5 separate regions of the Homo sapiens genome follow, and all the other regions are linked to region 1. Evidence: fine-mapped expression QTL. A gene starts in region 1. Each other region holds a variant in brackets. All regions are shown on one strand. Distances are between the middles of the regions.

What was found. PIP is the estimated chance that this variant, and not a neighbour inherited with it, causes the effect. A credible set is the group of variants that fine-mapping cannot tell apart.
Region 2: its variant is the best candidate, but not a certain one, in a credible set for the expression of HS6ST1 in monocytes (BLUEPRINT, PIP 0.79).
Region 3: its variant is the best candidate, but not a certain one, in a credible set for the expression of HS6ST1 in skeletal muscle (GTEx, PIP 0.57).
Region 4: its variant is the best candidate, but not a certain one, in a credible set for the expression of HS6ST1 in tibial artery (GTEx, PIP 0.56).
Region 5: its variant is the best candidate, but not a certain one, in a credible set for the expression of HS6ST1 in thyroid (GTEx, PIP 0.53).

What each region holds. Positions count from the first base shown.
Region 1 is chr2:128,316,103-128,321,202 of GRCh38, forward strand. HS6ST1 (heparan sulfate 6-O-sulfotransferase 1) reads right to left here and starts at 2,766. Exons shown (of 2, transcript NM_004807.3): 1 at 1,935-2,766. The coding sequence starts at 2,461. RefSeq lists an enhancer at 624-773 and silencers at 1,775-2,004, 2,699-3,108.
Region 2 is chr2:128,447,248-128,452,347 of GRCh38, forward strand. The region is part of intron 1 of LOC105373611 (a long non-coding RNA gene); the gene reads left to right. Among named protein-coding and RNA genes, the nearest start is that of HS6ST1, 130 kb to the left of the region's middle. RefSeq lists an enhancer at 1,160-2,151. The variant C/T (reference allele first, on the strand shown) is at 2,675.
Region 3 is chr2:128,296,385-128,301,484 of GRCh38, forward strand. The region is part of intron 1 of HS6ST1 (heparan sulfate 6-O-sulfotransferase 1); the gene reads right to left. Among named protein-coding and RNA genes, the nearest start is that of HS6ST1, 20 kb to the right of the region's middle. RefSeq lists enhancers at 3,558-4,156, 4,157-4,754, 4,755-5,100. The variant C/T (reference allele first, on the strand shown) is at 2,009.
Region 4 is chr2:128,358,015-128,363,114 of GRCh38, forward strand. No RefSeq gene overlaps it. Among named protein-coding and RNA genes, the nearest start is that of HS6ST1, 42 kb to the left of the region's middle. RefSeq lists enhancers at 3,421-3,960, 3,961-4,499, 4,500-5,038. The variant T/C (reference allele first, on the strand shown) is at 2,627.
Region 5 is chr2:128,285,957-128,291,056 of GRCh38, forward strand. All of the region lies in intron 1 of HS6ST1 (heparan sulfate 6-O-sulfotransferase 1), which reads right to left. Among named protein-coding and RNA genes, the nearest start is that of HS6ST1, 30 kb to the right of the region's middle. RefSeq lists an enhancer at 1,877-2,706. The variant A/AACGATAATGTAC (reference allele first, on the strand shown) is at 2,743.

The sequences.
Region 1 (5,100 bases):
CCTTCCTGGTGTAGCACCTGGGGCCCCATCGGCCCCACCTGGTCCTCCCACTCTCATGGACAAACTCCAGAGAAAGGAGGCCAAGGCTCTTCACCCTGGGGACCCACAGGCGTGCGGGGCTGCAGGAAGAGCATCCTGGTTGCAATCTAGGGCTGAGGTGGCCTCTGCTGAGCAGGCTTGTTTCAAAAGCTCCGGCTTCTTGGCGGCCCGAAGCTTCCACGCAATCCTCTTAGGCTGCCGAGCTAAGTCCCTCTGGCAAAGGGGGTGACCCCCATCCTTGCACCCCCCACAGGTAGGGAGGCGTCTGTTGGTATTGGTCAGTGACCAACTCTGGGAGCCTACTGCTCTGACTGGTGGAAGGGTGGGTGGGGGCATGGCTGTGGTCCCAGGCACAGCTGAGCCTAGCACAGAGAAGCTGGACCAGGGTTAGGGGGGCCCTGCAGCAGGAACGTGCATCTGTGCAGAGCAGACTAAGTGCTGGGCCGGAAGCAATCCTTCAGGGGCCCTAGACAGGCAGCTCTGTGACCGCCAAGTGTAGAATGTGGCTGTAAGAGGCTCAGAACATCACCTCCCAGGCTGGGAGCTGCAGTGTGTGTGTGTGTGTGGGTGTGTGTGTGTACAGTTGGGGGAGGGGGGAGAAAGAAAAGTGGGAAGATGCCCCTCCAACTCTAGGACCCCAATTTCCTGACAGCCTGAGAAAGACCACAGAGCAAGGATTGAGGTCTGTGCAGGGGAGCAGTGTCTCGGACTCTGCTCAGCTCCAGGCTGGCTGGACCTTCCAGGCTCCCCAGGCACACCTGAGAGCCTACAGCCTCTGGACCCAAGAGTGCCAGCCAACACGCCTACAACCGCCCAGCCTCCTACCACCAGCCTGTCTGCAAATTCAGTCCTAAGGCAAATTTGGAAGAGAAACAAAAGGCAGACAAGAAGCCCTGCTCCTGGCCCTTCCCAGCCCAGACTTTGGGGAGAAAGGCCCCGCAGGGCATCCCTGCAGGACGAATGGGCACCAACAGGAACAGGAGGAAAATAACCCCAACTTTAACTGCTGGAAACCCAGCAGCACCCCAGGTTCCCCTACAAACGGCTTCCCAGAAGAGCTGCCCCGGCACCCCTCCCATGCTCTGTGTCCTCACGCAGCTCAGCTCTGACATGGGGCTGGGGGACCCCAGAGAAGGGGTGTGGCAGCACAGGTTCCCTGGACCAGCTCAACTACCCCCAACCTGGCTGGTAGCTTCCTGGGGAAGGTGGTCCCCCATCGGGTGGCTTTTGTTCCTCTCTCCAGGCAAGCCTGTGCCTGGAAGAATTCGGCTGGCAGGCCCCACTGGGAGGACAGGCGGTACTGCCTCCTCCCCGCCCCCAGCCCCAGGTCAACAGGGCCTTTGTTCTACCTGCACACACCGGCAGGCAGGCGGGCAGAGCCAGCCCCCTTCCCTGGCAGCTCCCCCACCCTCTGAAGGCAGGCACTCCAGGCACAGGGGCGGCACCTCACTACTCTCACTTCCACTTTTGGGACCACAGCACCGAAGCGGCACGGGGAAGCCAACACTCCAGGTAGGCCACGCACACACCCAGAAGCCCGCGTCCCCAAGTCCGGCGGGCCAGACCTCACGGCGCACAGCAGGTAAGGTGGCCCGAGGGCAGCGGGCGGGGACCCTGGAGAAAACCCGGGCGCTGCGCAGTCAAGCCGGCAGTAGGGCAGCACAAGGCAAGGAAGAGAGTGAGAGCGAGGTCAGAAAGCGCGGTGACAGCCGGCTCACCCAGAGGAGCTGGGAGCCTCGGGCGCTCGGCAGGTCGGGAGGGGTGCCGGCGAGTGGGGGCCCCCAAGAGGGCAGAAGGGGGTAGGGAAGGCAGGGCCGACCCAGTACAGCACGGCGGGCATACGGCCCGGCCTCGGGGGCGCAGCTGCGCGAGGATCCCGCCGCCCGGGCGCTCACCTGGGCGTGCGCAGCGCGGCGGAGTCGCGGCGGTCCAGCACGCCGGGCACGCAGTTGGTGAGCTCGGTCCAGTCGGCGTGCAGCCCGCAGCTCCAGCCGGTGGAGAAGCGGGAGAAGAGCCAAGTCTCGCGGCGGTTGGGCCGGTAGCAGGTGCACTTCTTCTGGCCGGGCCGGCAGTCGCACGGCACCTCGAGGCGTACGTTCTGCACGAGGTGGCGGCCGAAGGTGGTGCCGCCCGTCTTCTGGATGTGCAGGAAGACGATCACGTCGTCGCCCTTCATGTCGAAGCGCAGCGAGCGCTCCAGCTCGCGGACCGGGAAGTAGTACTTCTTCTCGTAGTGGGGGTCGGGTGTGGGGAACAGGTCCAGGTCGTCGGGCGGCGCGCGGCCGCCGGGCGCGCCCAGGCTCAGTCCTGGGCCCGCGTACTGGTACAAGATGAGCATGAAGCACACCGAGCCCGCCACCACCAGCACGAACTTGCTGGCGCGCTCAACCATGGTCCTGCCGCCGGCGCGCCGCCGCCGCATGTGTCACCATCGCCGGGGCCCGGGCGCGGGGCGCGGGGCCTGGGAGGGCAGGAGGCGCGGGCGCAGCTGCCTCCGCCGCCGCCCGCGCTCCGGCCCGGCCCGGCTACTCGGCGCCCAGGCCGCCCGCAGCGGCGCGGGCCCCGACCCTCCGCGGTGCCATGGCTGCTCCCCGCCCGGCCCCGGCTCCCCGGGCCCGACGCCCGACTCCGCTCCCGCTCGGCCCCGCTCCCGGCCCCGGCCAGCACAGCGCTCTCCGCGCCCCCAGCACCAGCCCGCTCCGCTCCACTCCGCGCCGAGAACGCTCTGCGCCGCCCCGCGCGCCGCCGCGTCTCCGCAGTCCGCCGCCGCCGCCCCGCCCCGGTCCGCCCCTGGCCCGCCCCCGTGGCGTCTCTTGCCGTCGCCGCCCGCGCCGATCCTCGGCCCCGCCTCCGGAGTGCCGGGGTTCGCCGCGGGTGCTGGGCGCGGGACCTGGGTCTGCTGCGGTGGCGAGGCCGCTAGCAGGCGGGCAGCCAGCGACTGGGAAGTGATTCCGCCCTCAGGGGAGTGGGGGACCAACCGGCAGTGCGGAGCCGAGGCGTGGGAGGCTCTCCTGGCGGGGGCCGCGGTGAGGGGGCGCGGCGGCTGGCGCTTCTGGAGCCTGGGTCCGTACCCCCTCCTCCCCAAGTCCCAGCCGCCCACGTCCCCGCAGCCCGCGCGGGAGGAAAGGCCTTGACCTTGCACGCTGGGGCGCTGAAGTTAGACGCTAGCCTACTGGGCTGCACTTCCAGGGACCAGGGCGGCGGGGGCCGCCCACCACCAGGACCGAGAGGGAAAGCGAGGCTTTCCTTTCCTGCTCGACCCCCTCACCCCTGCGGCTGGCTTTGGGACAGTGCCCCGCAGCCCCGCATTGAAGAGATGTTGGGCTGTCTGCAGAGGCCTGCGGAGCGGCTTTATGGCTTCCTCCTTGTTTGAAAAGAATATCAGACGAGGTGCATTTTCCCCCATCCATGTTTATTATACTCCAATGAAAGAGTTATAAAACATTGAGCCAATTCTTAAGAATCGTGAGTGCCCACCAAATATTCTGTCTTTCGTGGGTTGGTTGGAGAGTCCAGCGGCCCGGGCCCAACCTGGCTGCGGAGGGCTCGCTCCACGTTGGCTCGTGTGTGGGCCGGGTGGTGCGGGCTCCTCACTCGCCGCCGCCCAGCCTGGCAAGCACGCGCGGCATTCGTGGGGCGGGGGGTCCCGCCAGGTGCCCACTCACACTGCTTGGGCTCTGGCAGTACTCGGAGGCTGCAGCCCGTCGGAAGCGCAGGAGTGGGGCTGGGACCTGCCAGGATCTCACAGCTGCAGGGCCGGCCGCGGTGGGCCCTAGTGTGTTGGTTCAGGCCAGCGAGGGCTCTGGGAGCGAGTCTGGCTGCCAGGCGTGGGCTCCCAGTGTCCACGTCAAGCCCTGCCGGGGACGGGGTGGGGGGGGAGGCGGGGTGGTGCCCTGCCTTCCGTTCTGTTAGGGACCGGAAGCGATCATGGGGTGTCAATTATGCCTCAGTAAAGCTGTTAAACGTAGACAACATCACACCAGAAAGCCCTCCTGGAAGCAAACCCAGAGAGCTGGAAAAACCAACACCCCAAACCCAGCTGAGCGGGCGGCATGCATTTTCCAAAGGGACCGCAAGAATATCCGCTGTGGACAGGCGGGTGCAGAACCCTCAACACAGCCCAGCGCACCCTGGAGTCCATGGTGTGGGGTCCTCAGTGGGACCTAGGGCCCCAAAGCCCCTGCTCATCTTGTAGGCTGCTTTAAAACTGTCCCTGGCCCGAGGGTCCTGGGGGCAGCTTGGACAAGCTTCTCCAGAAGTGACTCATTCCTATAGGAGTGGGGGTGCAGTCCCCATGGGACACAGGTGGGGCCGCCCTGCAGTGTGCTTGGACCTGCCTGCAGCCCCTTGACGCAGTCTGTGCCTGAGCCCTGGGGAGCCTTCCTGTGTGGCCTAGGGGAGCACAGCTGCCCCGGGTCCACCCCCCAGATGTCCTTACCCAGATAAGGATCCTCGTGCTACATCATAATTAAGGCTGCTCTTTTGGAGACCTGCTGGGTGCCAGGCATTGTAGAGGTGTCATTTCCAATTCCATCAGCAAATCTGCGGGGGTAGGCTGTGATATCCATTTACAGAAGAGAAAACTGAGGTTCAAAGGGGTTAAGACCCTGGTTCCAAGGTCAACCACTCTCACCCCATGAGAGTCAGCAGAGCTGGGATCCTGATTCCTGCTGTGAGCCCCAGAACCCTCCCCTTCCCCACCTCTGCACTTGCCCCAGCTCCCTAGGCCAGGGATGAGAGCGTCTACAGGGGCCACTCCTGAGAGCCTGGTGACCGTCACTGCCACCAAGGGGGAACGTGGGCCCAGAGTGTTCAAGGGAAAGCTGGAGCAGCTCCGAAGGCCAACGAAGCCATCGGTACTTGGGCCATGGCTCCACCCTGTGATGATCTCACTGTCCCAAGGGGGAAACTGAGGCCCAGGCAGGGACGAAGTGCCTGTGATAAGGTCCCACCCTTGAATGGGAGCCAGAGCAGCCTGACCCATGGAGCAACATCTCCCAGAACAAGCTATTTAATCCAACTTCATACCTGCCACACTGGCTGATGGGAAGCACTCACATT
Region 2 (5,100 bases), 130 kb after region 1:
GAGAGGGACAGGAGCACCCGGGGGTCCCAGTGTCTTTCTCTGCTACCACCCTCCAGGGGCCGTCAGTCCAGGTGTGGGGAGGCAACTTTGGGTGGGGTATGGCCCCTGCTGATCACCCACAATGCCTGCCCTGGGTCTGGAGCTGGGCAAAGGGACACTGACCGGAGGCCACTGTTCTGCCTCCCTTGGGCTTGGCTGGGGCTGCCCAGCAGCAGTGGACACATTCCCAGCCATGGCCCCCGTGGGTGGTGCCGCCTGCTCTGAAGACAGCCCTGGCCAGTCCCCTGTCCAGGCAGACCATCTCCCCTGTCAGCAGGGCTCAGGAGGCCACCACACCCAGGTACATCTCAGTGTTCATTCATCCACCCAATCATTCCTTGGGAGGAACATCGACACCTGGGCCTGGGCAAGGTGCTGGGGAGCCAGCCCCATAGCTTTATGGCAGGAGCAGGTGGGAAGCAGGACCCACAGTATTATGGTGGGGGCAGGTGTGGGGCAGGACCCCACAGCGTTACAATGGGGGCAGGAAGGGGGGCGGGACTCACAGTGGTATGGCGGGAACAGGTGGGGAGCAGGACCCACAGTATTATGGTGGGGGCAGGTGTTGGGGGGCGGGACCCACAGCATTATGGTTGGGGTAGGTGGGGGGGCAGGACCCACTGCGTTACAGTGGGGGCAGGTGGGGGGCGGGACCCACAGCATTATGGTGGGGGCAGGTGGGGAAGTGGGACCCACAGAGCTATGGTGGGGGCAGGTGGGTGGTGGGACCCACAGCGTTACAGTGGGGGCAGGTGGGGGGCGGGACCCACAGCATTATGGTGGGGGCAGGTGGGGGGCGGGACCCACAGCGTTACAGTGGGGGCAGGTGGTGGGCGGGACCCACAGCATTATGGTGGGGGCAGGTGGGGGGCGGGACCCACAGCGTTTCGGTGGGGGCAGGTGGACACACACAGGCTTTGGAGCCACGCAGACTAGGATCAAATCATACACTGTGGGTGACCTTTAGAAAGCCATCGAAGATCTCTGGGCCTCAGTTTCCTGAACAGCAAAACAGGGCTAACTCTTGTCAGATGGCTGTGGGGCTCCAGGGATATGGTGGCTATGAAGGACCTGGCAGGTATTAGGCCCCCACCAGGGCCCCAGGAGCTCAGCCCAGGTGCTCTTCGTTTACCTGGACACTTCAGGCAGGCTGCGCCACAGGGCCTTGGCACGTGCTGCCTCCTCCCTGTCACCCCAGCACTGCCCCCTGCCCTGCCGTATCCTCTCGCCACAGTGCTCAGTGATGTCCCACGGAGATGGGTGTCTTTTCTTTCCCTCGCCAGAATGTGAGCATCGCCAGGGCTGGGGTTTCGATTTGCTTTGTTCCCCCAGTCTCTTCCATGCCCAGAACAGTGCCTGGCCAGTGGCAAGGGTGAGGGGTGCTGCTGAGTGGCTAGAATGTCTGAGAGCAAAGCCATGGCCATTTCTGCTCACTAACCCTGAGCAACAGGAGAGGGGTCTGGGCCGAGGGCCTTAGTGGAAGGGGGCTGTCAGTCCTTTTGAGCCTTCATGAGGTGGGAAGAGAGAGGCTGGGCCTTGGAATCAGAGAGCTGGTTCCACCCCTGCAGGGAGTGCAGGTGGGAGGCTCAGGCCCCAGGTGAATCAGGCTCTGTCCCTGCCTGTGAGAAGCTCCTGGTCTGGAGGGGGCCCCAGCCATGAGAAGAGTTGGAAGCCACCCAGGATGATGTGAGAACCAGACCCAGACAGTGACTTCCCGGGTCAGGGTGCCCCTTGGCAACCTCAGACAGCTGCTTGGCAGTAGCCCAGTTGGCCCCTTAGGGAGGCACCCCCAACCTTCCCTGGCCACGTGGGTGGGTATTCATGGGCCTGGCTGCTGTGTAGGTCAATGAGACCCAGGCTCCTTAGGAGCTGTGTGCTGGCATGTTGTCTCTGTCCTCAAGAGCTGTTTCCCCCTGGTCATTACAGGTACACGCAGATGGCAGAGGACCTGTAAAACCCCTGAGGGGTCAGGGACGTTGCCTGGGCTGAACAGTTGAGGGATGCAGCAAGGGACTAAGTCAGGGTGCCCACCCCGGCACACACAAGCATGGGCCTGGGATTTACCAAAGGACGGAGTCCTCTGTCAGTGATGAACACGAATCTTCCTGGGAGAGGGGCCCGAGCTGGATCTGAGTCCTGTCTGGCTGATGCCCTCTGACTGTGGGTGGTGACTGGCTCACTGAGCCTCAGTTTCTTCACCTGTAAAGCGGGCGTGGTAACAGTACGGCCTCAGGGGCTGTCTTGGGGTAGAGTGCACACTGAGCACTGCTTGTTCTCGCAGTTACCATGGGGATTCGAATTCACTCCACGGCATGAACCACATGTGCTGGAGGGGCCTTTCCCGAGATCTTTTTGGATGGTGGAGCCTCTGCAAGTAGACTGTAACCAAGAAAGGAGGGCGGTGGGCCCAAGGCACAGCCAGCCCTTCCCAGTTGCGTGAGTGGAGGAGCAGTGGGTGGTGGCCTTGCTGGAGAGAGAAGCCTCCGGGAGTGGGCCTGGGCCCCGTGCTCCTAGCCTGACCCTCCCGGTCTGAACTGAGCCATCTCAGGGAAGGCCGTCTATAGAGGGCAGGCTTAGTGGGGCTGTGGCGCTGTCTTCCCAGTGCTGGTGGGGATATACCGCAACTCCGAAGCCC[C/T]GCGTGTGTCTGGCTCCCAGCCCTTCCCTTCAGAGGCCCAGGCCTCTGGCATCAGGCTTACTTCCGGCTCCTGGCCAAAGCTGCAGCAGCTCCCAACAGGACAGTGACATCTGTCTCTGGGATCAGAAAGTGGTGGCTGAGGCTCACCCCATCCTAAACAGGAAGAGAGCAGGCAGACGAGGCTGGGTCCCTGTCACTAAGGCCTCTACAGAGGCAGGGCCACTCAGGGTGGACATGGCCACCCAGAAGTGTGGCCTGGGCTGGGCTAGCCTGGGAGGGTGAGGAAAAGGAATGGATGAAGAAGACTGGGAGATGCACCTAGCTTTGATGCCTCTGCTTCATGGGTCTCTTTGATGCCTCTGCGTCATAAGGCTGCTGTATGCTCTCGCTGGATGGTGCGTTGGATGGCCAATGGCAGGCAGACAGCGTTCCCGCCTCGGCTCTGAGACCAGGCATCTCCTCAGCACAGAGGGCCCCACTCCTTCAGGGGTCACCACTGGAGGAGCCACTACCTCTTTCCTTGAGTTATCACAACAATCCCAGGTCACTCCCAGTGTCACCCCGTTTTACAGAAGAGACAGCTAGGGAGTTGCGGAAGCTGCTCATGAGTGCTGGGTGAGGGCCAGACTCAGGGTCCTTCTGCAATAAGAACCCTGCCCCCCTGGGCCTGGGGCAGCGGCTGTGTTTTCAGGAAGGTTGCACAGAATTTGGATCTCTGCCCCACTTCCGCCCCTGACTTAGGCGTCTTCCAGAACCCCCTAATCCCCTGCTTTATCTAAAGAAATGAGTGCTGCAGAGAGCTAGCCACAGGCTCCAGGGAGCCATTTCTAATGGGAAAACATGCCCATTTGCCTAAATGAATCAAATCCATTTCTCTCCCATACATATTTCATGGGCTTCCTCTCTGTGTAATTTAATTATCACTGTTGTTAGTGTTAATGCCCTGGTTGGTGCAGCTCTGCTCCCCAGACCCTCTGAGCCTGATGCTGCAGCAGGGCTCGAGGAGGAGCCGGAAGAATGGAACCATCGCTATGGCAACAGGATGCCATAATATTTCCTGATGATCTATTGCTTTAATCTTGAGGGCTCTGAGTATATTGCCAGCATTAATAAATAAATCTAAATAACACCCTGGTGAGATTGATATTATTCTATCCATTTTACTGATGGATAAACAGCAGCTCAGGGGGGTTAAGTGCCTCGCCTGGGGGATGGGTAAGAAGGACTGTGCTGGAGATGTGTGCGAGGGCCACACCGGTTTCTGGGGGCCCCAGTGTCCCTGCTGGAGGGGCTGGGTCAGTGCCCTAGAAGCCTTCTGGGAGCCGGTGGCACCATGATGTTGGAAAGTGCTCTGGACATATTTACATTTGTGACCCTGTGTCTGGGTTGGGGCCAGCCCAACTTCTGGTAGTGGCAGCAGGAAGGGCCCTCCGGCCTTAACAGGGCTCCTGTTTCCTAAGTCCAGAATGTTACCCTGAGATGTTCTGTGCTTTGGTTTCGGTGTGTTCAGCAATACATTTCCTTGGAAGAAATAGCCTTTGATCCAGTCCCAGCGTCACCTTGTTGTGAGAGTAACCAGGATGAGTCTTGAGTCTGGGTTTTAGAAGTGGAGGGCAGGAGGGGCAAGGAGGCAGGTGCGTTCTGTGCCTGGTGTTTAGGTGGGTGAGCCCCTTGCCCCCTTCCCCAGCTGCATGCAGATATGTGTTCTTATTTTTTATTTTTCCAGCTAAGGGCTTGAACCTCCCCCACCTTATTTAGGAGGATTTCCAGCCCCTCTCCCTCCGGGTGAGGCCTCCCCGCCCTTTGGCTGTCCTGGGTCTTACTCCACTTAAGAACTTAGTCCCATTTCCTCTGTGGCTGCCTGACCCCACCACATAGTGTCACCGCTGAGCATGGGTCCTATGTAGCCTGATGGTGGCTTGTCCAGCCTGTTCCCCTCACTTCTCGCACACTGTCTCTCACCTGCCCAGTGGCCGGTCCAAGCGCAGTCACTTCTGCACTGTTGCTGCACTCAGTCCAAAGCAGCTGCTTGGTGGCTTCAGCCTCACCCCACTCAGCCTCCCACAGATCCTCAGTCCATCAGCGTCCATTACATACCAGCCTTTGTTACCCACCAGCCTCCATTACCCACCAGCCTCCATAACCTACCAGCCTCCATGACCTACCAGACTCCATTACCCATCAGCCTCCATTACTCAGCAACCTCCATTACTCACCAACCTCTGTTACCCACCAGCCTCCATTACCCATCAGCCTCCATTACCCACCAGCCTCTATTACCCAGCAGCCTCCATGACCTACCAGCCTCCATTACCCATCAGCCTCCATTACTCACCAACCTCCATTACTCACCAACCTCTGTTACCCATCAGCCTCCATTACCCATCAGCCTCTATTACCCAGCAGCCTCCATGACCTACCAGCCT
Region 3 (5,100 bases), 20 kb before region 1:
AAAAGGTATTCAGATTGGAAAGAAAAAAGGAAAGTTATCTCTCTTCTCAGATGACATAATCTTATATGTAGATAATGCTAAAGAATCCACTTCCACACACAAAAACCTGTTAGAGCTAATAAACTAACTTAACAATGTTGTTAAAGTAAAAATTAAAAGAAATCAGTTGTATTTCTATTCACTAGCAACAAACAATACAAGAAGGAAATTAACAAAACAATTATGTTTTTGTTGGCATCAGAAAGTGTAAAATATTTAGGAGGAGACTTAACCAATGAAGTGAAATACTTGTAAACTAAAAACTACAAAACACTGATGAAAGAAATTAAAGACAACCCCAGTAAATGGAAAATCATCCCATGTCCATGAACTGAAAGACCTACTATCATTAAGATGTAAATACTACTCATGTAATCTACAGATTTAATGAAATCCCTATCACAACCCCAACAGTATTTGCTGCATAAATAGAGTAACTTAACCTAAAATTCATATGAAATTTCAAGGGATTTTGAATAGCTAAAGTACTTGACAAAAAAGAATGGCTCATGTCTGTAATCCCAGCACTTTGGGAGGCCAATGAGGGAGGATTGTTTGAGCCTGGGAGGTTAAGGCTGCAGTGAGCCAGGTTCACATCACTGCACCTTAGCCTGGATGACAAAGCGAGACCCTGTCTCAAAAACAAACAAAAAAAACCCCAAACCAAAACAAATACAAAACAAAGTTGGACTCCCATTTCCTGATTTCAAAACTTAACTACAAAGCTATGGTAGTCAAATCAGTGTGGTACTGTCATAAAGATAGGCATATAGACCAATGGAATACGATAAAGAGCCCAGAAATCAACCCTTGCATATATGGTCAAATGGTGCCAAGACCATTCAATGGGGAAAACACACTCTTTTCAACAAATGGTGCTGGGGAAACTGGATTTCCACATGTAAAAGAAGGAAATTGGACCCTTATCTAACATTATACATAGAAATTAACTCAAAATGGATTAATGACCAATGGTAAGACCTAAAACTGTCAACTCTTAGAACACAGGAAAAAAGCTTTATGATACTAGATTTGGCAATGATCTCTTGAATATGACATCCAAACACAGGTAACAAAAGAAAAGCTAGATTAATTGGGCTTCATCAAAATTAAAAACATTTAGGCTGGGCATGGTGGCTTATGCCTATAATTCTAGCACTTTGGGAGGCCGAGGTGGGTGATCCACCTGATCATGAGGTCAGGAGTTCGAGACCAGCCTGACCAACATGGAGAAACCCCGTCTCTACTAAAAATACAGAAATTAGCTGGGCGTGGTGGCACATGCCTGTAATCCCAGCGACTCAGGAGGCTGAGGCACGAGAATCGCTTGAACCTGGGAAGCAGAGGTTGCGGTGAGCCGAGATGACACCATTGCACTACAGCCTGGGCAACAAGAGTGAAACTCTGTTTCAAAAACAAAACAAAACAAAAAATTGAAAATATTTGTGCATCAAAGGATAGTATCAACAGAGTGAAACGCAACCCACAGAATGGAAGAAAATATTTGTAAATCATATATCTGATAAGAGATTAATATCCAGAATATATAAAGAACTCCTATAACTTAACAACCCAATTAAAAAATGTGCGACATTTGAGTAGACATTTCCCCAAAGAAGACAGACCAATGGCCAACAAGCAGATATAAGATGAACATCGTTAGCCATTAGGGAAATGCAAATCAATACCACAATGAGATTCCACTTCACATCCATCAGACTGGCTATTATCAAAAAACAGGAAGAAATGTTAGCAAGGATGTAGAGAAACTGGAACCCTTCTGCAGTGCTGGTGGGAAGGTAAAATGGTACAGCTACTGTAGAAAGCAGTATGGTGGTTTCTCAAAAAAAATGAGATACAGAATTACCATATGATCTAGCAATTCCTCTTTTAGATATATTCCCAAACAATCTAAAAGCAGAGACTTAAACAGATATTTGTACACCCATGTTCCCAGCAGCATCATTCA[C/T]AATAGCAAGAAGGGAGCAGCCAAGAGTCCACTGACAGATGAAGGGATGATGAGCAAAATATGGTACATATAGACGATGGAGTATTACTCAGCCCTAAAAAGGAAGGCGATTCTGACACAGGATAAAATATGGATGAACCTTAAAGACATTATGCTAAGCCAGTCGTGAAAAGACAGTATCATATAATTCCACTTAAATCCGCTATCTAGAGTAGCCAAATTCATAGTCAGGAAGTAGGATGGACGGCGTGAGAGGCTGGAGGGAGGGGAATGAGGAGTTCGTGTTTAATGGGGTCAGAGCTCAGTTTGGGAAGATGAAAAAGTTCTGGAGACGGATGATGGTGATGACTGTACAATGTGAATGTACTTCATGCCACTGAACTGTACACTCAAAAATGGTTAGAATGGTAAATTTTATGTTATGCATACTTCACCACAATAAAAAACAAAAAAAGGCTTTCCCACAACGAGTGTCCTCAAGAGCCAAGTCCCAACAGCTTCTCAGGAGGGAAAGCAGCACGTCCCTGGGCGCGGCCACCCTGGGCCCACCAGTGGGGCTGGCCCAGGCCTAACCCACCCCTCACTCCCTCTCCCTCCTGCATGACTGTGTGGGGTACTCCTCGGCTCTCGGAATGAGAGGACCAGAGGCCAAGGGCACCAGAATCGGCCTCAGATGGGGCAGAAACACACCTGGACGTGGCCCAGGGCCGAGGTGTGACCTAGCCAAGGACCCAGTTTCTGTTCTTTGCAGGGACAGAGCAGGCTTCGCAAGTGCCTGCCTCCTGCCATGCAGCAGAGAGCACACAGCTCCCTCCTTGCTCTGCACCACAACTCCCCGACGCACCCCAACAGCATGGGAGGTGGTGTTCTGCTCTCCCGTCCTCCAAAGGAGCAAACTGAGGCCACAGCTGCACCCTTGGACACAGGCCCATCAGCAGGAGCGAGCCCTCTGCCCTGGCCGGCCCACTCTTAGCAAACTATAAGAGGTCAACACAACACAGATTGCAAATTATGCTGCTGAGGCTCTGCTGGCCCCAGTCTCAGTGTGACATGTGGGGAAACTGAGTGGATGGCAGGTCATGCCCTATCCTCCAGACCCCTACGCTGGACACTCCAGGCCCAATGAGGAAGAGCCACAGCAGCAGCTGAAGGCACATTGAGGCCCAGCCCCATGTGGTGGATGAGGAAACTGAAGCAGAGAGCTCACAAGCCGGTGAGGAGCACAGTGGATCTCTGTCTTTGAAGGCCACGCGTGACCTGTGCCAGGCCCCCGGCAGAAAGCTGGGGCACAGAGGGTAATCACAGTGGGCCAGGCCTGCCTGGAAAGACCCCAGCTGGCGGAGAGACAGAGGCACACAGGGTAGGGAGCTGTGGCTGAGAGGCTCATAACCCCTCCCCCATCCCGGCCCTGCTAACACAGCCCATCTGCCAGGCGGAGGCTGGGGGTGCTGGCGAGGGCAGCAGACCCCTGGGCTCTGAGCAGACGGAGGAAACACAGCTTGTGGCAGCACAAACACCAGCGCCAGCAAGGCAGGGTGGCTCTGGTGGGCAGAGGGCTACCCCACCTCCAGGCCGGGGTCTTGCCAGCCGCTTCCCATCAGCACTCAGATTGTCTTGTGAAGCCCAGGCTGGGGCAGCATGGGAGAGTCAGGCCTGGACCCGGGTGACACTCTGCTTATACTGCTGAATTCACCAAACCAAGGACCCCAGCGGCTTCCTCTGTAAAATGGGGGGCTTCTCCAAAGTTCCAAGCACACTCCAAGCTCCTGCAACCAGAACTACAGGCCCATCCCCAACCCACGGCATTAAGCTGAGGGCATAGCTGGCATGGACGAGGCTGTGCAGGAGGCCCACACAGCGGAGCCTGCCCTCCGGAGAGGGCCTGCAGCCCCAGGACACAGCTACCATCCCTACCTGGACCCTGGCAGGGATGGGACACTGGAGAAGAGGGGGGGACCACCCACCCTCTCCCAAACCAGCGCCGCCTTGGGCCATGCTGGTGACCAGGTGTGGCTTCCACAGTACGCCTGCCCCCAGCCCTGCACCTGGGCCACGTCAAGGGGGCCGTGTGTTCGCGGAGGTGTCTACCTGGGGCGCTGTGTGCACGGGGGTATCTCTGGGTTCTTGGGCCCTGAAGCTGAGCAGCTCCAGTCCCTCTCCCAGCAAGTAGGGAGGGACAGCTGGGACCCCCATAGGACTGTCTGTCTAGCACCTGTTGTAATTAATCTCTTCGGGGGAGGCTGTAACTAAGGGCAGGGTGGGCGGACCACCTTGAGTTACGCAGGTGGAGGACGAGGATGCCCAGGACTGGGCCCAACTTCTGCCCGGCAGCATCACCTGGCCACACCCAGGGCCCCTGCCATGCCAGCTGTGCCCACAGTCAATCCATGAGATGCCTAGGGCAGACCCTCCTCCCAGCTGCTCTGGGCGTGTCTCACCCTCCAGAGCAGCTAGCCCCACACCCCGTCTGAGCCTCCGCCAGTATCTTTCTCAAGGGAGAGCCGCCACCGTGTGCTGTGTGTGGTGGGGGTGGGTGCAATGGCACATGCCTAAGAAATGAGTGCCTCTGTCATTGTCATTAGCTGGGGAGGGCAAAAGAAAGGAATGGGAGCCCTGGGTCACAAAGTTTGAGGAGTCTGGGCTTTTGGCTGCTTGGGTACATGCAGCAACAGCCTCCTGAATGGTCTATAGAAACCAGCCTTCCCTCCCTCTGTGAGGGGCAGGGGTTTCTGGGGGCTGCGTAGCTCTAGCCGCCCCTCTGTGTGGGACTGGGGTCGCCGGGGGCTGCATGGCTCTAGCCACTCCTCTGTGAGGGGCAGGGGTTCCCGGGGGCTGCGTAGCTCTAGCCACCCCTCTGTGTGAGGCAGGGCTGCATGGCTCCTGTACCCCTCTGTGTTGGGCAGAGATCCCCAGGGGCTGCATGGCTCCTGCGCCCTGTGTGTCAGGCAGGGGTTCCCAGGGGCCATGTGGCTCCAGGCTACCCTTCCTGTGTCTGCAATGACAGCAGATCGTCTTTGGAAAAGCATCTCCTCTAATATCCTGGGACCATTTCAAAGACTTCTGAGAGCTCAGGATGGAAGAGCAGCCCAGCT
Region 4 (5,100 bases), 42 kb after region 1:
TCAAGTTGTGTGATGACCATGACTTACTTTACCCAATGAGTACAACATGCATGTCAAATGAGGATTTGGGAACTCCGCTTGTCTTTTCCATCTTCCAGCTTTTTCAGAGGTATATTCGTGTCCTGCCTCAGACTCCTGGGCTCTCACACTTGACCTTAGGTTTTGGTGGCTGAGAGGGTGGTGGTCAGGTAGCCTGTGAATCCTGGCCCCACCATCAACCAGCTGGGCACCCTTGGGCATGTCACTTACCCTTTCTAAGCCTCTGTTTTCTCAATTACGATGTATTTTGGGTGAAGGTTCTGCCTACCTTGCCGGGCTGGGAGAATGAAATGGGATGATTTTGTAAAGGGCACTCAATACGTTTCAAGTCTCAGTAGACAGAGGTGAAGGCAATGCTCTGCCAATCCTTTGCTGTCCGTCTGTTCACACTGAGCCCTGGAAGCTGTACATGCCCCTAGTTTAATGATCCCTTTCTCCTTTCCCCATTGCTGTCTATGCTTCTGCAAATGAAAATGTAACTTTTTGACCGGGAGCGGTGGCTCATGCCTGTAATCCCAGCACTTTGGGAAGCCAAGGCGGGTGGATCACCTGAGGTCTGGAGTTTGAGACCAGACTGGCCAACATGGCGAAACCCCATCTCTACTAAAAATACAAAATTAGCCGGGCGTGGTGGCGCATGCCTGTAATCCCAGCTACTCGGGAGGCTGAGGCAGGAGAATTGCTTGAACCCGGGAGGCGGAGGTTGTGGTGAGCGGAGATCGCGCCATTGCACTCCAGCCTGGACAACAAGAGAGAAACTGTGTCTCAAAAAAAAATAATAACTTTTAATAACTAGTCACTGAAGCCAAACCATCATCATCCTCTTGGGCAAAAGGTTTATTGGCATTTAGCTTCCTTCTGACAGCTCCTGCCTATGCGGGGGAAGGTAATGCCAGCAGCCTCACACTTACCTCCTCCCAGCCTGCTTCCTCCAAGGAGAGACTGCTCAGAAGCCCTGGGGAATGGGGAGGAATATGGAGCAGGCTAGGTCAAGTCTACCAAGAGTAACCAGAAGTAAGGGCGGGATAGGCTTTCAGAGTGGACCCCAAACCCCACCGCCACCAACCAGAGCACGGGAGACCAATGAGGACCAGGCTGTGGGGCCCTCTGGGACGGACCACTCCAGCAGCATTGAGTCTCTGGCTGGGTGAATTGACACTTGGCAGGGCGTGCCAGCCGTGGTTTTCTCGCGCCTTTCTCGCCTCATTGTGCTCTGGGCAGTCTCAGAGGTCCTGCCTCTCAGCCCTGAGGCTGTTTCACACCTCTGCCATTGCCTCTTCCTGCACCCAGGGCTTGCCTTTCCTTCTCCTGGGCATGAGGGCATCCTGGCTGCCCTCTCATAGCCTGGCTTCTGCTAGCCTTCTTCGTGGGGCTCCCAGCCCCTGGACCACAGCTGACTGGAGTAGATGCTTGGAAAAAGCTTGGTGGCCGCAGCTGGGTCGGGCAGCCGCTGCACCTCGGGCCTCAGCTAGACTGCTGCTAAAGGGCAGGGATATGGCTTGATGTGTGTTCTCTCCAAGCCTCACGTTGCCTGGTGGGAGGTGTTTGGGTCAGTGGGGTGGGGCCCTCATGACTGGCTTAGTGCCCTCCTTGTGGTAATGAGTTACCATGAGATCTGATTGTTAAAAAGCGTCTGGACCTCCCTCTCCTCTCTCTTGCTCCCCTCTCACCATGGGACATGCCTGCTCCCCTTTCCCCTTCTGTCATGTGTGAAAGCTCCTTGAGGCCTCCCCAGAAGCGGAGCAGATGCTCCCAGAGCCAATTAAACCCCCTTTCTGTATAAATTGTCCAGCTTCAGGTATTCCTTTACAGCAACACGAAGTGGATTGGCCGTCGGTTTTGGGGTCAGTGGACCACGTCAAGTCTAACCTGTTTGACTCAGTCCACTCCCTTCTGGAGGGGCCCTTGCCCTGTCAGTCTGCAAACCACCAGGCTTCTTGCTGCTCCACCTGTGTCCCTGCTCAGCATGCCTGGCGGCCGTGGGACCCTGAGTGTCCAGGGCACTGATGCCAATGGGGAGATCACAGCCGATTTCACCAGAAAGCAGGGCATCCTGACAACAGAGCCCAGGCTTCCCCATGGCACCAGCGCCCAGCTGATGGCCCGTGCCCCCGGGGCCTCTCCAGGCCACAGGCTCGTCCTCTCTCCAACCCTGGCCAGACATCTTCTCCCTTCACTTGCTTGAGTCCCATCAGGGGCTCCCCAGTTAGGCTGGTGCTTCCAGAAGGTGGAGACCAGATCCCCTGCCTCCCAAGTCCTGATGGCACCTCCTGCAGTTCTTTGCACCTTGTTCAGTCAGGGGTGATGTAGTAGTGTTCTCAAACTTTTTGATGCCAGCACCCCTTTACACCCTTAAAAATAGGGAGGACCCTAAAGAGCTCCTGTTTTGTGTGCGTCTTTTCAGTGATGTGCCTCAGCTGTCTCACCAGCTGGCAAGAACTGACTGTGCACTTTCTTTCCACCTCTGCACCCAGTGATGTTATTTTGGTGGCTTAACATCGATCATGGTGAAAATATTTACACCACGGAAAGTGGCAAATACTGCATAGTGGGGCCCTATGGCTTGGAGAGCTGGTGGTTTAACATC[T/C]TCCAGCACTCCGTGGTTACAACTGTGTTCACTACATTAGAGTTTAAAACTGATAAATTTGCAAAACACGGGAAGACAGAAGCACACGTTTTGTCAGCCATCAGGGTGAGGCTGCGTTATGCATCAAGAGCCTCTGAAAGCCCCCTGGATACCTCTGTGAGAAAATGCATGAGAAAGGCAAATCAGGGCTCCGTGTTACTGTGAAAGTAAGTCCGGTCTTTCTGATCCCTGGAAAGATCCTGAGACGCTGGGGGGTCCCCCAGGCCGCCTTTGGAACATCGCTGGTGTAGACTCAGATGTGGGTCAGGCTGTCTGCTTCATTCTGTGCTGGCTGAGTGACCTTGGGCAAATCACACACCTTCTCTCAGGGTCAGTTTCTTCATTGTGAAATGGAGATGATGGGGTTATTGAGGTCTACAGGAGAGAGACTGCAGAAAGCCCCAGGCAGAGCTCGGCCCTACAGAGGCTGCTCCGCCATTGCAGGTCTGCTCTGTCCTTCCCAGTCTCCTGCCCCAATGGCTGGAGGCCGCTGGGCAGAGCCCAGCTGGTTTTGCAGGAGGTGATACAAGTGTGACACCGTGTCATTCATACAATGCCCATCGTAATTTTCACAGTATCATGGGTATCTGTACTGTTATGGACTGAATGCTTGTGCCCCCCAAATTCATACATTGAAGCCCTAACTCCCAATGTGAAGATCTTAGGAGGAAGTGGAGCCTTTGGGAGGTGATTAGGCTTAGGGGAGGTCATGAGGCTGGGTCCTGACCTGATGATGGGATTAGCGCTCTTCTAAGAAGAGACACGGGAGACGATCTCTCTCCACCATGTGAGGATACAGTGAGAAGGTGGCCACCAGCAAACCAGGAAGCAGGCCTTCACCAGGCACCACATCTGCCAGCACCTTGATCTTGGACTTCAGCCTCCGGAACTGTGAGAAACACGCATCTGCTGCTAAGCCTCCCAGGCTGTGGTACTACCTTAGAGCAGGCAGAGCTGACCAGATAGCTCCCTGGGTGCATGTGCTTTATGGAAGCACTTCAGCAAGGGTGGTGGGGACAGCAGTGGTTGCCTTCATCCTGAGAGACAAGCTGAAAAGAGAATTGAGGGTACCCTGGGAGGTGAGGAGGGTCCTCGGTGGAAACTGGAGGGTCATGCAGGTAGGGGGCACGGGCCTTCCATCGCGTGGTGGCCCAGACTGATGTGCTGCTCTGTCCCCAGCTTCCTTGAGCAGGGAGAGGATTAAAGCGGGGCCAGGGCAGAGCCAGACACCTCTGTCCATCTGGTGTGTCCAGGAGGCTGGAGCTTCCTGTGAGTGCAGAGTGCACCACCGAGCGTGGCTGACCTGGTGCTGTGCTGTGGATGCACCCAGGAGGGCTGGGATCTGGCAGGCTTGGAACCTTGTCGGGTGTATCCTCAGGGGAAGAGGCCACCCCTAGTGCAGTCCCTGGCACTGCAGCCCTAAGCCTCTGCTCTGCCCTGAGACAGGAGCGTGGAGGGGAAATGCACATTTAACTAGACTCCAGTGCACGGACACCTTTTCTTCTGGACTGGATTTTTATACTTGGATGTGTCTAAAGAGAGATTTAACACATATGGCTGAAGGCAGTGATTGGAGGAAAAATAAAATTGTTTTGCACTTGAGCCACTGAGATGAGATTCTTAGGCAGGCTCACCGCACGTGTTTAACCTCCCAGCTCCTCTAGGCCCTGTGCAGAGTGTGGGAGGGCTCAGTCCAGGCAGGAGCTGCTGGAAAGATGCTTTTGTCCTGCCTGCTGTCCCCTGTCTGTCGTCCTGTCTACCATCCCATCTACTGTCCCCATCTGCCGTCTCCATCTACTGTCCCCTGTCTGCTGTCCCATCTACCGTCCTCTGACTACTGTCTCCTGTCTGCGGTCCCCTGTCTACTGTTCTGTCTGCTGTCCCCTGTCCACTGCCCCCTGTCCCCTGCCTGCTATCCCCTGTTCCCTGCGTGCAGTCCTCGTCTGCTGTCTCTTGCCTGCCATCCCCTGTCTGCTTTCCCTGTCTCCTGTTCCCTGTCTACGGTCCTCTGTCTGCCATATTCTGTCTGCTGTGGCCCCTGAGGGCTGGGCCTTCCTGAAGATCATGGCGTTGGGATGGTGTCCCCCAGGGCTGCATTACCAGCGATGATTAGAGCCAGTGTTCCTCCTTGGAGCTGCCCCACTGAGGCCTGCAGGCAGCTCTGGGGGTGCGCAGAGGAAATCTATGTGCTAGGTTGGGGGTGGGGCAGGAGTTCCACCCTGTCTTGGGAGGGTGGGGGGTGGGTTTTCCTTCCCAGACCACCCTGGAGCCCCAGCTCCACTCTCTGACTCCCAGGAGGCTGAGTGAGCTGCGGTGCAGGCAGAGGCCTGAGAAGGGGCACATTTTTGAGATTCCAAGCATGTCTGCATCCTTTCCAGACTCAGCTCCGGGGAAGGCAGGAGCGGTGCGGAGTTGGTGGCTTGGGCTCCAGTCAG
Region 5 (5,100 bases), 30 kb before region 1:
AACAGGTGGGATTCCTGCTCTGCCAGCTGTCCTGTGTGGCCTGGGGACAGTCACCCTGGCCCCTCTGAGCCCCAGGGACTGTCTCCATAAAACTCGTAGACAGAAAGCCACTTCCCAGACTGGCGATCTGGTGTGTGGCGTATGTAGGGAGACTTAGAGCCTACAGCACCCTGCAGGGGTGAGGGCTCATCCAGCCCAGGACTGGCGTGGGGGACCCCAGCAGGTGCAGCAGATGTGAGCTGTGTGATCTCACCTTGTCACAGTCCCTGTCCCATCCAATCTGCCATTCCTATTCCTCCCTCCCAGGGGGAATCTATCGTGGCCGAGGTCTGCGGGCTGGAGCCAGGGTCCTGCTCTCACAGCATCCTGCAGGGCCAGGAACATAGACACTAAAGACCCAGGCAAGCAAGCGCCAGGGAGGGGTGGGTCAGGGGGCCTCATCAGACTGCAGGTCAGGAGCTTGGAGGACGAGGAGGAGCAGGCCTGGCAAGGGGGCTGGGGAATGAATTCCAGACAAACCTGCAGAGCAGCAGAGGACAGGCAGGAGGCCGGGCAGGGCCCCTGGGAGCTTGCACTGCACGCCCAGGCTTTGCAGGCCATCCAAATGCACGGGTTGGTCAGAAGAGGAAATGAGTTCATGGTTTCAAGGACAGGACACTGCTATTAAATGGTGGGAAAAAGGAAAACTTCTGACCTTGTGTCAAAATACTGACTTGTTAAAAAATAAAAAACAAGAGGCTTTATTAGCGTAGGTTTAGGAAATACCTCCTCAGCCCCTTCCCTAACAACGTCTGCAAGCGGGTGAAAATCTTTGCTGGCTTTACAAACAAGGTCAGCAAAGGTTTCAGAAAACAGAGCAGGCTGCTGGCCACGATACGCCTTGCCTCCTGCAAAGCTGTGCCCACCCAGATAGAGAAACCAAGGCCCCACCTGGTTGCCTGGGGAACAGCATCCCCCAAAGCAGGAGGCCCCTCTGAATGCCTCCTAGGAGCCTGAGACTCCCACCTTCCCCTTGGGGTGGTCGGGGAGCAAGTGACCAGGAAGCAGAGGCCCCACACTGGGGGAAGCCCAAAGCTTTTCCTTCAAAGCCCCCTGACCTGCATGATCTCATTGCGCCCTGACAAGGAACCCTCTGGGGCAGGGGGTGGCTTAGCCATCAGGTGGACACACACTGTGGGGTGCCATGCAGGCCACACCCGCCACACCTCCACAAAGGCACTGATGGGAAGGAAGCGCCCAACCCCTCCTGGTCCCAGGAATGGTCACTCCCATTCCTGACCAGGGCAGTCCCCCTGCAAGAGCACCTCAGTGGATATATCCAGGGCCCAGGGCACTCCCCCAGAGAAGGTGCAGGTGAGGCCCCTTCCCCTGAGATGCACTGCCCAGCTGTGGGCAGGGACAGCTGCCCCCCCTACTCAGTGAGGGTGAACGAGACCCCCAGCAGGTCCCCTGACGGGCTGCTTCTCCAACAGCACTGAAGTGGGGGTGCACAGAGAACTGGGCAGAGAGCCGGGATGTGAGGCTTAGGACTGCCTCCACCTAGCAGGTGTCAGGTAAGGCTGTGACTTCTGGAGGTCCTAGAAGTCACCCCCAGGGTAGGGGCCACAAGAGGAGGTGCTGACAATGTCCTCCCAGCAGGGCCAGCTAGAGACGCCGGGTCCAGGGGTGCTCTGCACCAGCCCTCTTCAATGAGGGGAGAACAGGCGGATGGCTTTCTGGGAGCTTGACCCTGTCCAAAAGCCCAGCATGGCTGTGAGCAGCCCGGGCCCAGATGCTGCTGACTGGACACCTGGAATGGGGCTCTGCCGAGGTCTTCCATGAGCAGAAGGGGTGAGGACCACCTCCTCACCTGTGTCCCACTGCCCTTCAGACTCTCCTGCCTGCTGCTCCAAGGCAGGGCTCCAGCAAGGCCATGAGGGCCCTGCGGGGCTGCTCGCCGGTCATGAAGGCTGCCCATTCATATTTCACACCTGCCTGCCTGGCACTTTCTGGCTTCTGACACCGGCAGGCGAGATGTCACTTATGCCTGAACGCACACACTCATACCTTGGGGTCAGGAGAAGGTGACAGTGCCCTGCTTCTTCACAGGGCACGCAGTCGAGCAGCAGGGCAGCTGACTAGGGGCGGGCTGGCTCGGCCTGAGACCTGTCTCCAGAGCCATGGCCTCCTCTTGTCCTGGCCAAGAGCTCTGGGGCTCACTCCTTCTGCTTCTAGGCCTTTTGCTGAGGCTATTGCGAGGACTCACGTGGCCCTTCCTCTTCCTTACAGCCTGTAACTACACATCCACCATGGCTGCTTGGGCCCACCAAGAGAGACGTGGAGGCCCGAGAGGGAGGCTGGCGGCAGCGTCAGGTCCTGCCGGGGTGTGCAGTATTTGTACCCTGCTATGAAACTGTCCCTGCCAGGTGAGAAAGTGCTCAGGGCCCTGAGGCCAGCCAGCACGACTTGATACCTACGCCCGGTGACTCCATGGCAGTAGAAAAGCACAGCCCTTCTGGGGACTCTGCATTAACACAGAAGCTCATATCTGTGTGCACAATGGGCAAAAGAGCCACATCAAAGCTTGTGGGTACAGCCTGATGCCAACTCTGGAAAACACATCAACTGGAGAGATGGAGCAGAAATGCAACCCGCGCCAGGTGCCCTGGGCCTAGTGCCCTGGGCCATTTTTTCTTTTACTTTTTCTGTATTTTTCCGATTTTATATAACCATGCATGTATTAGAAAACAAACAAACAAACAA[A/AACGATAATGTAC]ACAATCTAATCTGACTTTCTCACAGGAGGTAGGAGAGTCAGGGAGGCCTGGGAGGCTCAGGGCCTCCCCAGCAGCCTCTCAGGACATCTCCAAAGCCACAGGATCATCACCAGTAATCAGCCTTTCTCGGGGTCAGGAGGGCGAGAGCTCATCTGAGGATCACTGGGGGTGTCCCTGGGACCCCTCCAGGCTCCACCTCCTGCTGACCCCACAGCAACTCATGTCAGGGTCCGAGGCAAAGTCCTGGTTCTCACCCACGACCCCACAGAGCCTCTCTGCAGCGAAGAGGGGCTGACACCTGCTCCCTCAACCCCCGAGTCCATATAAACACAGAGGCGGCCGCGGAGAGATGGCCTTGCATGCTCTTGAATGTAGACTATTCTTCCCCAGACAGGGAAATTCAGAGCCTAAACAGCCCACCCCAGAGATAAGCCATTCTGTGCCCAAGCTAACTGCAGTATCCAACTCTATACTCCCATGGCCCTGGCTCTACTTACAAGGAGGGCGACAGCTCCGGGTGATGCACTGAGAAAGCTGTCACCTGAGCAGTGACCCTGGGGACTCGGGAATGCTGACTCTCCAGAACCAGCCATTTTATGGCCCCCCATCAAGCACTTCTGTGGTTGGTGCCTCCAAAAAAGGTTAGGGCCCAGCAGGCATTTGCTCATTTTATTCCTGCAACCCCGGTACGGTCGCCACTATTAGATCCCCCTGCAGATGGGCAAATGGAGACTCAGAGATCCTTCTGCAGCCAAAGTCTCCCAGATACCAGAGGTGTCTGACTTCATAGGCCACAAGGCATGTCTGCTGCTCACCCACGTGCACGGTCCCTGAGATGAGCAGCACGAAGCTCCCAGGAGAACCCGGCGCGCCATTGGCAGCACCAGAAAACAGGTCTCCAGCTTGCTAAGGGATCTGCCATCCAGCAGCTGTGTGGCCCTGACGAGTTCCCCAAGGAATGCATCTGTCATCTGTTTCCTCCTTGCACAAAACAAGACAATATGCCTCCTGGAGGTCACAGCATGACGCTCGGCATGAGGATGGGCCCACCCCAGCTGGCAGGGAAAGAGAGGAAGCTGCCGGAACAGACCTACCTGCTTTCACCAACCACAGGCCAGAGGCACCAGGAGAACATGTAAGAGATAGAGAGAGGATAGCTGTCAGTCAAATTATTTGTATAAAATGTCCAAATATAAGTCACAAATAGCCCGATAATCTCAAAAAGCAAAAATCAAAGCAGTAGTTTAAAATCTTCCTAAAATATTGAGGAAATGCCTGCAGCTTACATTCAAATGATTCTACTAAAATGCAAAAGCATGTATATAACTACATATATAAATATACATGTAAGTACACATGTATCTACAGATATACATATATGTAAACAGCAAGTGAGAGCACCCACTCACAAGCACAAATATTGCAAAATGTTAACAAGCAGTGGGTCTCGGTGAAAGGTATGAGGTTCACTTTACTACCATTTCAACGACTTTGTAAGTTTGACATTTTTCAAGATAAAAAGTTAGGGGTAAAATTCCTACAAAGAAAGTGCTGGGCTATTTCTACCAAATTTTAAAAGAACCAGATTTTTGTAAGCAAACCCTCCTAGACAAGAGTAAAGCAGTGGACACTCCCAATTCATTCTATGAGGCCAACATAATCCTAATACCGAAGTTGGACAAATGCACAAGAGAGGAAAATTGCAGCCTGGTGGACACATCTGCTAAGCTCAGAGTTCAAATATAGATACAAAAATTCCTCAACAAAAATCTTATCAAATCCAACCCAATTGAGCATATAAAAGATATTACACTACGACCATACTTAGTAACCCCAGGTATGCAAGGATGGCTTAACAGGAGAAAATCCATACATGTGACTCATCACAGCAACAGACTACAGAGCTCAGTAAATGTGTAAGAAGCATCTGCTAAAAACACTATTCATAATAAAAACTCTCAGGAAACTAGGAATAGAAGTCCCTTAATTTGGCCAGGCGTGGTAGCTCACACTTGTAATCCCAGCACTTTGGGAGGCTGAGGCAGGTGGATGACTTGAGGTCAGGAGTTCAAGACCAGCCTTGCCAACATGGCGAAACACCGTCTCTACTAAAAATACAAAAAAAAAAAAAAAAAAAAAAAAAAAATTTAGCATGCATGATGGCACGCACCTATAAAGAGGCTGAGGCGTAAGAATCACTTGAACCCAGGAAGTGGAGGTTGCAGTGAGCGGAGATCGTGTCATAGCACTCCAGCCTGGGCAAAAGAGTGAAACTGTCTCAAATTAAAAAAAAAAGTTCCTTAATTTGATAAAGTATCCCCAAAACCTAGAGCAAGCATGGTCCCCATGGGGAAGAG